2 separate regions of the Homo sapiens genome follow, and region 2 is linked to region 1. A link means that fine-mapping ties the variant in region 1 to the plasma level of a protein whose gene starts in the linked region. Region 1 holds a variant in brackets. A gene starts in the other region. All regions are shown on their reverse strands.

Region 1 (8,334 bases):
AAATATCTAGGTCCTTACTCTACTTCATTATTAAGAGAATGCAACTATAGGCCAGGCATGGTGGCTCACGCCTGTAATACCAACACTTTGGGAGGCTGAGGTGGGAAGATTGAGCCCAGGAGTTCGAGACCAGACTGGGCACCATAGTGAGACACTGAATCTAAAAAAAAAAAAAAAAAAAAAAAATTAAAAAAATTAGCCAGGCATGGTGGCATGCACCTTTGGCCTAGCTACTCAGGAGGCTGAGTCAGGAGGATGGCTTGGGCCTGGAAGATTGAGGCTACAGTGAGCCGCAGTTGTACCACTGCCCTTCAGTCTGGGAAAGAGAGTGAGAACCTGTCTCAAAAAACAAAACAAAACAAATCAAAAACCACAATGCAACTATAAAACCAGAATCTAAATAAGTAATCTTATTTTAGTGCTAAGTGAGTTACCTTGTGGTTTATCTTTTATTAAGGCTGTCATTTTCTTAAAGGGCAAATCCCATGTCTGATTGTACATTTTCTCTTCCTAGGGGATGAGAGGTGGAATCACCACCATAGTCATTAACAATAATAATCACCATCTGTATCAATTATCTACTGTTGGATAATAATCTACCTCAGAATTTAGTGGCTTAAAACAACAAATGTTCATTATTACTTACAATTTCTATGAGACAGTCATTTGGAAAGTACTTAGCTAGGTAGATATGGCTTAGAGTCTTTCAAGAGATTGAGCTACATCGTGAGCTGGGGTTACAGTCTTTGAAAGACTTGACTAGGGCTGCAGGATCCATTTCTACAGTGGTTCACTGGCATGGCAGAAAGTTGGTATGGGCTGGTTGGTGTGTGGCCTCAGTTCAATGCCATGTTGATCTCTCCACAGAGTTGAGGGTCTTTTGACATATTGGTTCTCTTGACAGCTTTTTATAGACTGAGCAATCCAGGAGAGCATGATGGTCCCTAAAATAACTTTCATGCCCTAACTTTGGAAGTCACATGCCATCCTTTTGTTTATATCCTATTGGCTATATGAGTCACTTCTATACAAGGGCATGAAAGCTAGGAAGCATGGATTATTGGAAGCCATCTTAGAAGCTGTCTATCACATCATCATCATCATCATCATCATCATCATCATCATCATCATCAACTTTTGAATGAATGACTTAAGCAATGAGAAATATACAAACATTAAGAAACGTGCTCTCTAGATAAAATTTCTTTAAAGGGAAAACTATATTTTAGATGTGCTTTCTTCACTCCTGACATGACATTCTTTACTTTTTAGTTGGAAGTGGGCAACAATAATTTCTACCTAAACTTAATGCCAATTAACACAGTAATTACAAGACAGTAGCTAGTCTTACATGATAATTGATGATAATTGCTTCCTGCTTTAATTGCCTTATAAACAAGACTGCAATAGCAATCCAAACATTTCCTCAAAAGAAAAAAAACAAACAAGAAAATTTGTCAAAGTCATTTGCAAGTTGATAAGGAGCTAACAAATCCAGCCTACATGTCTGCAAGTCATGAAAGCAGCTGCTGGCAATGCATGGCACTTCCTTGGAGGATTTCAGTGGTGGTGAGAGCTTCAGGCTGGGTGGTGTCAGCTCCTGGATGCTGCAGAGACGTGTGCTGAAGCCTAACTGTTGGCAGCAGTTGTACCAGTGTGCTGAAGTGCTTAATGAAACTTTGCCAGTGTGGGAACCACCGCAGGTTCATCAGTGAATGGTGGGGCAATGTCTCTCCCTTGTTGCTGCCTGTGCCCTCTGGAAAGATGGGTTCAAAGCAAAATGAGGAGAGGATGAAGATTAGTGTCGTTTTTGTTGAGAAAAGCTCTAGAAGTCTGTATATTATACTATCCAAAAGCGAAGGGGAAACAAAACAAAGAAAGGCACTTCATTCTGGTAAATGAGCTAGCTTAGGTGTGTTAGAGAGAGAAAGGGAACCACATATGAGGCAGGTTAAACTCTTAAAAACTCAGCTGAGTCTAAGTAGGTGAACAACAGATGGAAATGAATGAGTGGTAGTATGTCCAAATAGACAAGAAATAAAAGGAGAGATGGAAGAAAGAAAGGTTGTCCAAGAAAGGAACTTTAAAAACCTGAGGCAGCATCTTAAGGGCACGTTGCAGAGGTATTTGTCCTCCCTCTTTCCCTAGGACATGTGCCTCAGAAACATCAATAATGGTTGCTGTTCAGTAACCCATTAAAGATGATTCCCCAGTGAGAAAAAATGTGGAAACTAGAGGAAAAAAATACCCTATGAAATTGATATCTTGAATGTAAGCAATTCCAACTAGGAAGCAGAGTAGACAACCACTGGGACACAGGAGCAGAGACATGCTCCCAGGAGACTGTGGGGCTTATTCCAATAAGTTGGAATGCTTGTTAAATTTAAAAGTAGGGGTGCCAGACCCTTAAGACTCAGAGGGAAATGGAAATTGAGATGTTGGAAGATGCAGGATGGAAATTAAAAACATCTTGAGTAAGAACTGATGACTGAGAGTGTCACCATCGTAACATTTGAAACTGTGCTAATTTGGCAACTCTCAAATGCTACTCTCTGGAAAATGAAAAAGCATGCATGGGTGGATTTCCCTACTCAATATGGCAAACCAGTGTCGTAACATGGTTTTATGACACTCCATCTGGTAGAGAGTGCCGTGTTTAGTCTCACAAGTCACGAGCCCTGGACAATCATCGTTAGAATGAGCAGTGACTTGGTCATGATGATGTTGAGAAAGATCACTTTCCCCTACCCTCCCCTTCTCTCAGTTTCATTTTTGGTGGCTATCCATTCTTACGTTCTGGGAACATCATTTTGCTTGGTAAAATTGCCCTAGGAACTGAGGATTTACTTTTCCAATGTCATGAGTGTGGGCCCAGGGCTGTGATAATCTTATGCATTCTGTTAACAGTTTAGACTCTTAAAATCATGAAGCTCAAAAGAACATTTTTTGTTGTAGTCCTAAATAAATGGATGTCTAAACGAACAGCCCAGACGGGACTCCTGAAGGAACCTCAGTCTTATCTCTACCTCAGCTATACCTCTGAATGAAAGTCTAGGCTGAGGTTGAGCATAATAAAACCAAAATTAGGGATGTTGAATTTTTGACTTTTTAAGACTTTCTGTTGATTACGTTAATGCTAGTTGCCATAACAAGCAAACCCTGGACTTTTGACATAAAATTCTGTCTTTTGTGGTGATAGAGTGTTTGCCCTATGCAGTCCTATGAAAACTCATTCTGATGAAGACTTTGGTAACATGGTTGCGTGATCTGTAGGGTTATTCTTGTTGTAGATATTCATCAGGTGGAGGGGACAAATGAGAGAGAATGGAGGAACATATCCAGGCTTTTATGAACCTGGTCTGGACCTGGGGGAACATACCACTTCTGCCCCCATCTCATTGGCAGAACTCAACTATTTGGCCACACTTAGATGAAAGGGAGTCTGCAATGTGGGATTGGCAGCCAATTCCAAATAACAATTCTATATCATGAAAGAGGACCTTGAATCTTTATTTTTGTCTGTTTTGTGATGGAGTCTCACTTCTTCACCCAGGCTGGAGTGCAATGGTGCAATCTCAGCTCACTGCAACCTCCACCTCCCGGATTCAAGCAATTCTCCTGCCTCAGCCTCCCCAGCAGCTGGGATTACAAGCATGTGCTACCACGCCTGGCTAATTTTTGTATTTTTAGTAGCTACAGAGTTCCATCATGTTGACCAGGCTGGTCTTGAACTCCTGACCTCAAATGATCCACCTGACTTGGCCTCCCAAAGTGCTGGGATTATAGGCATGAGTCACCGTGCCTAGCCAGGACCTTGAATCTTAGTGAAAAGCTCTGCCATAGGCCACAGACTTTTAGCTGACAAAGGCAAGAGAATTTATTTGGGCCTTTACTTCCTTTACACAACAAATGCTTCATATTTTATCTTGCAAAAGGACTTGAATCTCTGGAGTTTAATTTCTTTCTGCAAATACAATAATGAGGCTGGTTTTTATTCAACTTCAGGGCATTTCCATGTAATTGACTTCAAGTTATCAAGGTATCTTTCTGTCATTCTTAAAACTTATCACAGAATCTCCCATGAGTAGTATTAGACAATTTGTCTCAACATAACTGGAGGTGGGAAAAAGAACTAGTAGTACATTTTCAGCTTGTATGTAGAGGTTTCTGAAGTTCATGTAATGAATTGATTATTCAGATAATTTTAGAAACTTTTACAGGCAAAATCTAAATTACCCATCCACAGTTTCAGGGTGACACTGGAAGAGCGGTTGGTATTGAATGTGAGGTCCTCCCCTGAAAAGCATAGCCTCACTCCTGTTTTGGGTTAGATTAAAAATCAAACCCCAATGAACTAAGAGGGCCAAGGTCAAAGAAATGTTAGGGTGGATTGTTTGTTTCTTGCTCCTTCGTTTTGCTTTAAAAGACTTCCTAACACAGTACTCCTGGCCCCTTGTGCCCAATGGACACACTGGGTTTGAGGGGCCCTGACTTGTGGCCTCCTCTCTTTTTGGGGTGAACCTGCAAATGGAAAGCATTCTAATCTGGGCTCTTTGTAAAGTACACTGGGCCACAGGGACCTGCATTTTGGAGGAAGGGCCACCTTAATTCCCAGGAACATTATAAGCTTGTTTGGTTGCCCAGCTTAGCCATGTCCTGTTTCCTAATTTATTTTCACTGGTCATGAAGCTGGCATTAGAATTTCCGTCTGTCTGATTTCATATCACCATATGTCAGTTGATTGGAACTCGGCGGGTGTTCTATTTGGACCCATCAAACCACAATTACAGACTGAGTTGGATTCCTGGCTCTCCTGTTTACT[ATCTATATAGTACTG/G]AGAATTTTGCTTAGTCTTTTTGAGCTTTAGTTTCTTGCTCATTAGGTAGGGGTAATACCTCTTCACAGTATTGTTGTGAGAATTAGATGTATTAATGACCGTAAAATGCTTTGTATAGGCTGGGTGCGGTGGTTCATGCCTGTAAGCCCAGCACTTTGGGAGGTGAGGTGGGCAGATCATGAGGTCAGGAGATGGAGACCATCCTGGATAACACGGTGAAACCCCGTCTCTACTAAAAATAAAAAAAATTACCCTGGAGTGGTGGTGGGCACCTGTAGTCCCAGCTACTCGGGAGGCTGAGGCAGGAGAATCGCTCAAACCCAGGAGGTGGAGGTTGCAGTGAGCTGAGATTGTACCACTGCACTCCAGACTGGGCAACAGAGTGAGACTCCATTTCAAAAAAAAAAATCCTCTGTATAATACCTAGAACATAGTAAGGACTCAATAAATTATATTATTTATTGTTATGACACAATTTTTTCAGGGTAATCTTGTGTCATGTGTGTTGTATTGGAAAATAATCAACTTTTACCTTATCTTTTGGTTATTTACAGTGACATATTGTCATAGTTTTGTTTGTACTCCTACAACAAAGTACCACAGCCTAGGTAATTTATGAACAATAGATATTTATTTCTCACAGACCTGGAGGCCGGGAAGTCCAAAATCAAGGCAGGTTTGGCATCAGGTTAGGTCTCTTTCCTCATAGGTGGCACTGTCTAGGTGTCCTGATGTGGCCAAAGGGATGGAAAGGACAAGACGGGACAAATAATATGTCCTCATATGGTAGAAGAGCATGAGAACAAAAAGGGCCTAGGCTAGTTCCTGTCTACCCTTTTAAAAGACACGCATCCATTCACTGAAGCAGAGTCTTCATCACTTTATCACTTCCCAAAAGGTCCCACCTCTTAGTACCACCACAGTTAAACTTAGTACCACCAACACTTAAACTGTGGGAGCCATTCAGACCATAGCCCATGGAATGACCAGTGCCTGTGTTATCTGCAAGTACTAGGAATGACAAATTCAGCAGGGGCAGCAGCAACAGGGTCAGAAAGAGGAGAGGGCTGGGGAAGGATTTCCAATATTTTAAGATGCATTTAGTCTGGGCAATTTTCCAACTATACCCCACCCAGCCCAATTAGATAAAACAAGTATACTCACACAGATAGTCCCCACATGCCCACTTTTGTGTTTTTTGTTTTGCTCCCTCACTTTCTGTCCTTTCCACTTACAGGTTCCTTTGCTCTAGTCAACTCTGATCTCAATTAGGACCAAATTTATCTTGTAGACTTTGAACTCTGGGTGCTAGAAAGTAGCACTTAGGGCATGATTGGCTCTCAGTAAGTGTCGAGCTGTAATGGAGGCATGCTTCATCCTCTCATAACACTCCTGTAATTCAGAGGTCCTCAGTTTTTGCTTCCCTGTCCCAATATACCTGAGAGATAGGATAAACCTCGATCCACTCCTGGTGATTATTATGGGAGTGGTACTTTCCTAATGGAAAGTATGTAAAAACCTGTGGCTGAGGAGTGGGAGAAAGAGGGTGGTTGTAGTAATTAAAAAAATTTAACTTTTATGCGTACATAGTAGATGTGTATATTTATGAGGTATGTGAGATATTTTGATACAGGTATACAATGTATAATAATCATATGGTGTATTCATCACCCCAAGCATTTATCATTTCCTTGTGTAAACATTCCAATTATACTTTTAGTTATTTTAAAATGTATGATAAATTATTGCCAACTGTAGTCACCCTGTTGTGCTATGAAATACTAGGTCTTATTCATTCTATCTAACTGTATCCCTGTACCCATTAATCATGTCCACTTCCCCCACTTCTTCCTCACTACCCTTCCCAGCCTCTGGTAGCCATCCTTCTACTCTTTACCTCCATGAGTTCAATTATTTACCTTTTTAGCTCCCACAAATGAGGGAAAGCATACAAAGTTTTTCTTTCAGTGCCTCGCTTATTTCACTTAATTTAATGTCCTCCAGTCTCATCCAGGTTGTTGCAAATGACAGGATCTCATTCTTTTTTATGGCTGAATAGTACGCCATTGTGAATATGTGCCATGTTTTCTTTATCCATTCATCTCTTAACGAACACTTAGGTTGCTTCGAATCTTGGCTATTGTGAATAGTGCCCCAGTAAAAATGGTAGTGCAGATTTATCTTCAATAAATGGATTTACTTTCTTTTGGGTACATACCTAGCAGTGGGAGTGCTGAATCCTGTGGTAGTTCTACTTCCAGTTTTTAAAGGACCCTCCATACTGTTCTCCATAATGTTTGTATTTAATACTAATTTACATTCCCACCAACAGTATATGAGTGTTGCCTTTTTTCCATATCCTTGCCAGCATTCATTATTGCTTGTCTTTAGGACAAAAGCCATTTTAACTGATGGGATGAAATGATACCTTATTGTAGTTCTGATTTGTATTTTTCTGATAATCAATAATGTTGAGCATCTTTTCATAATCCTGTTTGCCATTTGTATGTGTTCTTTTGAGAAGTGTCTATTTAGATATTTTGCCCATTTTGTAATAAGATGATTATATATTTTCTGATTATTTTAGCTCCTTACATATTCTGGCTATTAATCTTTTGTTGGAATGGATAATTTACAAATATTTTCCCCCATTCTGTAGGTTGTCTCTTGACTTTGTTGAGCATTTTGTTTACCCTGTAGAAGCTTTTTAACTTGATATGATCCCATTTGTCCATCTTTGCTTTGGTTGCTTGTACTTTTAGGGTATTATTCAAGAAATCTTTGCCCATAACAATGTCCTGGAGAGTTTCCCCAATATTTTCTTTTAGTAGTTTCATAGTTTGAGGTTTTAAATTTAAATCTTCAATCCATTTTGATTTGATTTTTGTATATGGAGAGAGATAGAGGGATAGGGGTCTAGTTTCATTATTCTACATATGGAGAGCCAGTTTTCACACACTATTTATTGAAGAGACTGTCTTTTTCTCAGTGGATATTCTTGGCACTTTTGTCAAAAATGAGTTCACTGTAGATGTATGAATTTATCTGTGGATTGTCTATTCTGTTCCATTGGTCTATATGGCTGTTTTTATGCCAGTACCATGCCTTTTTGATTACTATAGTTCTAGTTTAATTTGAAATCAGATAATGTGATTCTTCCAGTTCTGTTCTTTTTGCTCAGCATGACTTTAGCTATTCTGGTTCTTTTCTGGTTCCATGTAAGTTTTAGGATTTTGTTTTCTATTCTGTAAAGAATGTTGCTATTATTTTGATAGAGATTGCATTGGATGTATAGATCACTTTGAGTAGTATGGACATTTTAATAATATTGAGTCTTACAGTACATGAACATGGAATATATTTCCCTTTTTTTGGTGTCCTCTTCAATTGCTTGAATCATTGTTTTACAGTTTTCATTGTAGAGGTCTTTCACTTCTTTGGTTAAGTTTATTCTTAGGTGTTTAATTTTATTTGTAGCTATTGTAATGGGGTTACTT
Region 2 (8,334 bases), not on the chromosome of region 1:
CCCTTTGAAGTCTTCGGCCCTGATACGGCTGATGCGGTTGAAGCGTGCATACAGGTAGGCAGTCCTCCGAGGAAGAGGAGGAATGTCCTCTAGGTCAATGTCATCGCAATACACAGAGGAACCGAGGCACACGCAGACCAGGCAGGTGGGCAGACCTGGCCCAGGTGGAAGACAGAACAAAGGGAGATCTCTTTAGCCTCTGGGGCCAATGGCCCTCGCCCCAGGGAGTGTCTGAACCATGGCCATCTGTGCCTTTTTGATAGCCTATGGGTTGCTGCCCAGAACTGACGGGCACCATGTACACGGTGCTGTTGTCTGCTCCCCTGTCACTCTGTCCTCTACCCCAGAGAGGCAGGTCCATCCTCAGTTACTACCCAGCCCAAGCCCATTTATACTTTCAGCAGACCCTGGTTCTGTGTACATTTTCCTGGGCCTATGTGGGTGTTTCTAGGAAATCCCTTGGTCTCTTTTCCACAGGATTCCTCTCTGGTCCCAAAAAGTAAAGCCAGAATTAAGTGGGATGGCCAGTGGTTGCTGGCTCTGCCATCTGCCTTGGGGAAGAGAAATTAGACATGTTCTGTGTGGCTCCAAGAAGCACAATAGAACCAAGGTGGAGTACAGTGCCTACCCAGCAACCACTTCCCCTTCTTATGGCATCAGCATGCCAATTTTTCTTTGGGAAGCAGCCCTCTCCTGTTCTGTCCATGACCCTGTCTCTGTACCCACGGGTAATGAGGTTAGGCCAGGTCAGCCACCCCAAGTAGTTGGGGAGACTTTATTGGATCATACAACTGAATAGCGCAGGTGGTTTCTGTCACTTGCTATCACAAGGCACAGAGATTACTGAGAGACCAGTTTAGCTCAACTCAAGGAATAACTCTGGTAGCAGTGACACAGCCCCCAGATTAAGGAGCTCTTCTCTGCCAGCAGTGACCAGGAGGAGTGGGTAGAGCAGAGGGGCCCCAGCATCTTTCTTATCCTGAGGCTTTGAATGGTGGATTCAGCTGAGGCCCTTTATGGCCTCTTTAAGCCTGAGACTGTAGCTCTGAGAGGTCATGGATTCCTGACTGAATGGTTTTCCTGCCAATGCCCCAATACCCCAGGTCCACCCAAGGCAAACATCCCGAGAAGAGAACAGGGAAACCGCGGGCAAGCAGGTCCAGAATGAACTTCACCCCTCCTCTGCCCACTTCTGATTTCCAGCAGATTGCTGAGGCCTCACTGCCAGGGATGCCAGCCGCAGCCTCCAGGAGGGCATCAGGGAAGGAAAGAGAGCTGCTGAGGAGGGACTTTGAAGCTGAAAAGCAGTGTGACTGCTTCATTTGCTCCCATGCCAAGTGACAGCCACAAAGTTAGTTATTCTTCTCTACAGGCTTTTAATTGTCTGTAATCTAATTACCACTCAACCTGCTTCCCCCGTCATGCTATTAATTAAGGCAGGGTGGCTTTGCTAGGGCATAAGGGAGTTCTTGCATTTCTTTGCTTCTTACTCAACTTGTACATTCAGGCAAAAGTATTAGGGACAGCCAGTGCCAGTCTTTGATTTCTTTTTTCCTGTTCTTACTGTGGCTATTTCCCCTTCTCTCCCTGCTAGTAAGGGTAGCCCTGACCCTCCATGCCCCAACCCCAACCACGTTCCACTTTGGTACCCCCTGGTGCTGGGTCATAGCTGCTTGGCCTATGACCTAGGGATATTGCGACCATGTGACTGTGCACTTACCATGGTTGGGCTGGGAACTCAGTAGCAGCCCTGCTGTAGTAGGTCTGGTCATCGTGGGGTTTGACGAGGGTGTCCCTGGAGCCGTAGTGCTCTTGGCGGGACTGATGCTGGTTGCAGGAGCGAGGCTAGTCACCTTAACCTGGAGATGTAGCACAGAGTACACAGTAGCCCAGCTTTTGCACAAAAGGGACTTAACTTTGGACTCTGGGAACCTCAGTGATGGATTTCAAACCAGCAAAGAGTCACTGTGGAGGAGGAGGAGGGAAGGATAGCAGAAAGACTGTGCAAAAAGGGGACCTGACAGAGCATCAGGTCCAGCATGTCCATCCTATGGATGAAGAAACTGGGGCCCAGAGAGGAGAGGGATGAGGATCAAAGAGCCAGCAGGTGGTCAAGGCAGAGACGAAACCTGCTCTCCCGATTTCCCAGGCCGGCACTCTTCCCCTGCTCCACACCGACCAGGCTCACGCACAATTGAGTAGGGGCTTCTGGGCTTGCACCCCACGCTGCTGCAGTGAAGGCCAAGAGGACCTGGGAAAGAACTTCAGACTGGAGGACAGTTTCAGAAAAGAGATGGGGGATGTGGCACTTTTATTTCCTAGAGAATATGATGAGGACATTGCGAACCCCTCCCCCAGTGAGACATAGCTTTGGCAGGGGGAGGCAAGTATGAGTTTTGAAGAAGGAGAAGTCCCAGGTTTGTGTCCTGTTTCTTAGTATCATCTAAGTGACAAGTCCCTATGGAGGGATAAGAATTTCCACCTCACAGAGAAAGAGGTGGAGGCTGGAGACACCCGCACTTTGGGGCAGATGGGAGGGCCCTGGCCTCTGACTCCCAGTGTCATGCAGGGAATGTAGTTGGTCTGCTGTGTCCCTCACCTCGGGGAGTTGGTCCCCATAATCTGTGAGCTCCTCATAGTTGCTCAGGTCAATGACTTCACCATAGTTGTCTGGGTTCAGGACATCATTCCGCAGAGGCAGAACTTCAAAGGAATCGCCTTCCCTGGGCATCTGCTCCTCTCTCCTCTTCCTCTCCTTCCTTGGGAGAGAAGCTGTCCCTGTCTCCTGCAGCACCAAGGCCAGCAGACTCAGGAAAGCCAGGAGCCTCATGGGGAGTCAGATGGGACTGAGAATCCCTTCAGCGGCTGGTCCTGGCAAGTGGGCACGAGGAAGGGCAGCGATCTGAGGGACAGGCTCTCCAGAGTGTTGTGGGAATGGCTCGCAGATTTACTCCACTTCCCACCCCCACACTTGCAGACTCAGTGCTCTCATCACATGCACAAATTCCCTACCAGCTGGGACTATGTCTTGGGGGGTATCTCCTAGCAGCCCCCTCCCTCCACCGCCCCACTTGAGTGTTTTTACACGCTCACCCAAACACTGATATTCACTCACAGAGGCATGTGCAGACACATCTCAACACAGACACATTCACAAGAGTCCCCTTGTTTACAAACGAGGCACACACTGGTGCATGCACACAGATGTCCTCTCTTAAACAACCCCATGCTCAGAACATGACTGCTAGTCACTAAGCTCGATTTAGAGAATGTCAACATCAAATAATCTTATGGGGTCTTTTTGTTTGTTTGTTTTTTTGAGACGAAGTTTCATTCTTGTTTCCCGGGCTGGAGTGCAGTGGTGCGATCTTGGCTCACTGCAACCTCCGCCTTCTGGGTTCAAGCGAATCTCCTGCCTCAGCCTCCTGAGTAGCTGGGATTACAGGCACCCACCATGCCTGGCTAATTTTTGTATTTTTAGTAGAGAAGGGGTTTCACCATATTGGCCAGGCTGGTGTCGAACTCCTGACCTTAGGTGATCCACCCACCCTGGCTTCCCAAAGTGCTGGAATTACAGGTGTGAGCCACCGCGCCCAGTTGACTCTTGTGGTTTTTTATAAAGATCATCCATTCATGCATTTGCTCAACAAACATTTATGGGTGTCTATTGAGTTCCAGGCACAGGACTTGTCTCTGTGGGTACAGAATGAATGAGGCACAGCCCTTCCTAGGAGCACCTAGTCTCTTTAGGAGACATGGACTTACAATGAAACATACAATGTAAAAAAGAATGTTAGTTTATGAAATATACTTCTAAATGCAGCTTTTTAGAAACAGATTATTACAGATAAAAGAGTTCTTTGTGTGTGATTGCATGAGTGTGTACGCATCTGGAAATTTCCTTAGATACCTGTGTATATTTGTGTGTGTGTGCACACAGATGCCTGCGTATGTATGTGATATGCATGTGAGTACAAATGTTCATGTAGTTCGTATATGTATAGACGGGTCAGGAAATGCATGTGGTGTGGTTTTGTATCCAGGCATAAGTGTATACAACAGTCATACCCAGTGTAGGCTTAACACAGCCCTCCCCAAAGCTAGCTGCACAAGTTTCTAGTAGACTCTCCCTCTTTCTTTCTTTTAAAATTTTTTTTATCTTTTAATTTTTATTTTATTTTCTATTTTTAAGACGGTGTCACTCTGTTGCCCAGCCTGGAGTGTTATGGCATGATCTCAGCTCACTGAAGCCTTAACCTCCTGGGCTCAGGCAGTCCTCCTGCCTCAGCCTCCCAAGTAGCTGGGACTACAGGCGTGTGTTACCATGCCCAGTTAACCTCCCCACCCTTTCTTAATTTTAGCTGGGCAAGGGGGCAAGCCTCTAGCAGTAGCAAGAGGTGTTTCTTCACCTTACCTCCCATACCTCACCCCAAACGAATTACATAATCTCAAAAAAAATTTTTCTAAGAGAGTTTAGTGCCCACCCAAAAGTCTTGTCCAACTTCTTTGGCCAGAGGCCTAAACTCTCTTCATTTTCCCTTCCCAATCCCCTGCCCCAGCCAAACACTTTGCCCTCATTTGCGCACCGATGGCCAGAGGCCTCAACCTTGAGCCTTACCCCTTCAATGCTTCTGGATCCTGGATGGAGAGCCCTGCAGCTTCCAGAAAGGTGGGGACTCTGGTGGAGGCTGTCTGAACTGGGGCTTGGGTTAGACAGTGGTGCCCGGGGGAGGGCAAGGAGTTGGCCAGGCCTGCGACCAATCAGACTTCTCATTCCTTCTGATGTCCAGCTGTTTCCCCTCCTCTTTCCTCAGGGGGTCCCCTGCCCCATTCCTGTATTTGACAAAAGAGAATTCTCCCCCCACCTTCCGCTTCACCCCCCACCTCCAGCTCCTGCTCTCTCTCCTCTTACTCTGTCAGCTCCTTCTTTCTTTTCCTTGTCCACTCTCCTGATAAGGCCACATCTTTGAGGAACAGGGAGTGCCATCCCCTGCAAGGAAGGGGCCCCATCCCTCAGATTCTGAGTCCTCAGAGAAGGCTGGAGTCGGGGGATATGGAGAGATAGAGCTTGTCTTTGCAGCTTCTTTCTCCAGCCAGAGAGTGACAAGGCTTCAGCTTCATAGCCAGAATCCAAAGATAAAAATAGGTGGAAATGAGGCACTTCACCCTCACCTAGAGCGCCAGCACAGAGACCATAATTGAATAAAATCACCAGAGACAGGAGCTGCAGGCCTAGGTAGTTCAAAGAGAAGGTGTATGGGGGATGAGATCGGATTTGAAAGCCAACTTCAAGTTCACAGATGATGATCATGAGGATACGGGAAATTCTCTAAATCTGCTAGGAGGAAACCAAATGGAAATTGGGAGGTGGGCCCTAGAAAGGATCATAAACACCAGTAGACATTGTGTAGGGTCTCGGGGGCCTGGGAAGTATCCTCTCCCGCACCCTCAGAGATGTACAGTCGTCCCTCAGTAACCATGGGGGATTGGTTCTGCACGTCCAGTGGATACCAAATCCACATATGCTGAGGTCTTTTATATAAAATGGTGAATTTGCACATAACCTACGCACATCCTCCTGTGTACTTCAAATCATCTCTAGATTACCTATAACACCAAACACAATGCTTACACCTCACTCCATTCACATGGATTCCACATAGTACTGGCACACAGCAAATTCAAGTTTTCCTTTTTGGAACGTTGTGAATTTTTTTTTTTTCTGAATATTTTCAATCTGTGGTTGGTTGAATCCACGGATGTGGAACCCACAGATACAGAGGGCCAACGGCATTCATCTGGAAACACTCCCCTTTCCTTGGTGCCTCGAGCAGGCTGCCGAGCAAGTCCTTGCTGAAGGCAGAGGTGGGGTGGCTAAGGAGTCTTCCCCAGCTTCTGCCAGCCTGTGCCCTGGCGCCCACCCAGGTTTCTCAGTGACTCTCCTTGTTCCCTACTCCTTTCCACCAACCAGATACTGAATTCCAGCTGTGAGGCCCCCTAAAGATCTAGTCCAAGTCCTTGTGGTATAGATGAGGAGAGTGAGGCCCAAAGAGGTGACGTGACTTGCCCTAGGTCACACAGAGCCAGGGCCAATGCCTAGATTTTTTGACTCCCTGGTCAGAGAGTTTTCTTTAGTTCATATGACCCTCCCCATTTCCACCTTCTTCCCCAGGAGTCCTGAATCCGTGTGTTTCCAGGCCCTCAGAGCAGATGGCTTGGCAGAACTCATCTCTGCCCTGGCACACCAGGTGAAGAGGCAGATCTAATAGCCTGGCCCTCGAGGGCAGCATTTGGCTTGCTGTGTTCCTGGGCTCCAGCTGGTGCAAGAGGGGGCTTCCCTCAGCCCAAGAGCCTGGTCACCAGAGAAGAGCATGTTCTTGTACCCCTGGCAGCCCCCCACCTGGGAAAAGACACCATCAGAGGCTCTGCTGGGTGGAGGGAAAGATAGCCCTGGATCCTGGAGGGCATCCAGTAGGCAGATGGCACATTTGGCGGGCTGTATGCCTCCATCTTCTCTCCACAGCCTGGGCTTTGCAGCCAGAGGCCCTCCACCCCCACAGCCAGCCTAGGCAATCTCCCCGCTCCCACCCCACACATTTATTCCTGGGAGAAATGCAAATGCGAGTGTTCATTCACTCTCCCTGCCGCCTGCTCCCACTCTCCCTCCCTGCTTTCCCAGAGACATACGCTCCTGCCATCCCTGCTTGGTTGCCACACCCCCACCATCGTTCCTCCCCAATGCATACACACCTGCTCCCCCCACTCCCTGCAGGAGCCACATCCAGACTCAGGCTCGCATCCTAGACCCTCTCCCAACTTCTCCTCTTGCTTTCCCAAGCTCACAGGTCACACACTCTTGTTCTCATGAATATTAGGGGCTGTCCATGGATGTGTACATGTGACCTGGTGGGGGAAACGGCTAACCCCGCAGACTGCTGTTCCAGGCAGCCCAGCTCCCCAAGAGCCTGGCAAAGGAAGCAGGAGGCGGGGGAGGCGTCCTAATCCTAATCTCTCATTAGGAGAGGCAAAAGGCGTGTTGATGAATCGGAGGCGGCAGGTGGTATGGACAGAAGTTTGACCAGCCAACCCTGTTGTTGCCCTTTTCATGGATAGGGAGAGAGAGGCGGGGAAGTTCAGGAACCCTCCTGTGTTTTGGATGACAGGGGTATATCCCCTGCTGAGGGCTTGTAGCCACATAACTCCACTCCATGACCGGAACATGACCCTCTCCTCTTTTTCAGACACACAAGCCCCACAGGGTAGACTCCACACCTTCCTACCTTTGTACTCATGCTGTTTCCTGTCCAGGTGGCGTCTTTTTTTCTTTCATCCACCTGGCAAAATCTGATTTATCCCTTAAGAGCCAGCTCACATGGTAGGAGTCTTTCTGGTTTTCCTCAGGTAGAGGTAAAAGCCCTTTCCTTTATACTGTTCATACACAGTAGTTTCACTCGTGTCTGTGTGAAGCGACCACCAAACAGGCTTTGTGTGAGCAACAAGGCTGTTTATTTCACCTGGGTGCAGGCGGGCTGAGTCCGAAAAGAGTCAGCGAAGGGAGATAGGGATGGGGCCATTTTATAAGATGTGGGTAGGTAATGGAAAATTACAGTCAAAGGGGGTTGTTCTCTGGTGGCCAGGGGTGGGGGTTGCAAGGTGTTCAGTGGGGGAGCTTTTGAGCCAGGATGAGCCAGGAGAAGGAATTTCACAAGGTAATGTCATCAGTTAAGGCAGGGACCAGCCATTTTCACTTCTTTTGTGGTGGAATATCATCAGTTAAGGTAGGAACCAGCCGTCTGGATGTGCACATGCAGGTCACAGGGGATATGATGGCTTAGCTTGGGCTCAGAGGCCTGACACACAGCATTATTACAAACACTTAGGACACAGAGGTATCCATTCATGGATTTCTTTCCCTTTACCAAGGTATGAGTTCCTCAAGGATGTGCTGCTATGTATATTATCCATCCTTGAATGCGTAGCTGGGGACCTGGCATGTGACCGATATCCACTGAACATCCGTGAAGTGAACCGAAGTCGATGTTTAGTAGCCAGGTAGGAGCAGCGAGGGCGTCACCTGGCAGTTCTCATTCTAAAGAAGATGGTGTAGCCTGGGAGGGTCATGAATCCCACTTTTGCAACCAACCTTCCCTCAGAAGAGAGAGTCTGGGACACCCTGTTCTAACCCTTCGGTGGACTTCCGCATGGCATGTAGACCATTCCAGATGACTTGGTCTATGCTCTCTGTCCTTGAGATGGCTCTTTTACTGTTTTGTATGCACACTACATCTCCCCAGTTAGTCTGTAAGCTTTACTTGGGCAGGAAAGACGACCGTT

Which allele goes with the higher level. Alleles are on the strand shown, and positions count from the first base shown. The strength of an association depends on the size of the effect and on how common the allele is.
In carriers of allele G in region 1, the plasma level of the protein whose gene starts at base 4,683 in region 2 tends to be higher than with ATCTATATAGTACTG alone (moderate association).

What was found. PIP is the chance, under the fine-mapping model, that this variant and not a neighbour inherited with it causes the effect. The UK Biobank Pharma Proteomics Project read protein levels with antibody pairs (Olink). The fine-mapping took linkage between variants from a reference panel, not from the people measured, so its PIPs are less certain.
Region 2: OPTC starts here. The variant in region 1 is fine-mapped to the plasma level of the OPTC protein (UK Biobank, PIP above 0.99).

What each region holds. Positions count from the first base shown.
Region 1 is chr8:134,247,204-134,255,537 of GRCh38, reverse strand. No RefSeq gene overlaps it. Among named protein-coding and RNA genes, the nearest start is that of ZFAT, 460 kb to the left of the region's middle. The variant ATCTATATAGTACTG/G (reference allele first, on the strand shown) is at 4,823.
Region 2 is chr1:203,490,502-203,498,835 of GRCh38, reverse strand. It overlaps OPTC (opticin), which reads right to left and starts at 4,683. Exons shown (of 8, transcript NM_014359.4): 1 at 4,619-4,683; 2 at 2,600-2,871; 3 at 1,721-1,859; 4 at 1-155. The coding sequence starts at 2,830. It overlaps PRELP (proline and arginine rich end leucine rich repeat protein), which reads right to left. Exons shown (of 3, transcript NM_002725.4): 3 at 7,484-8,334. RefSeq lists a silencer at 4,962-5,190 and an enhancer at 6,578-7,376.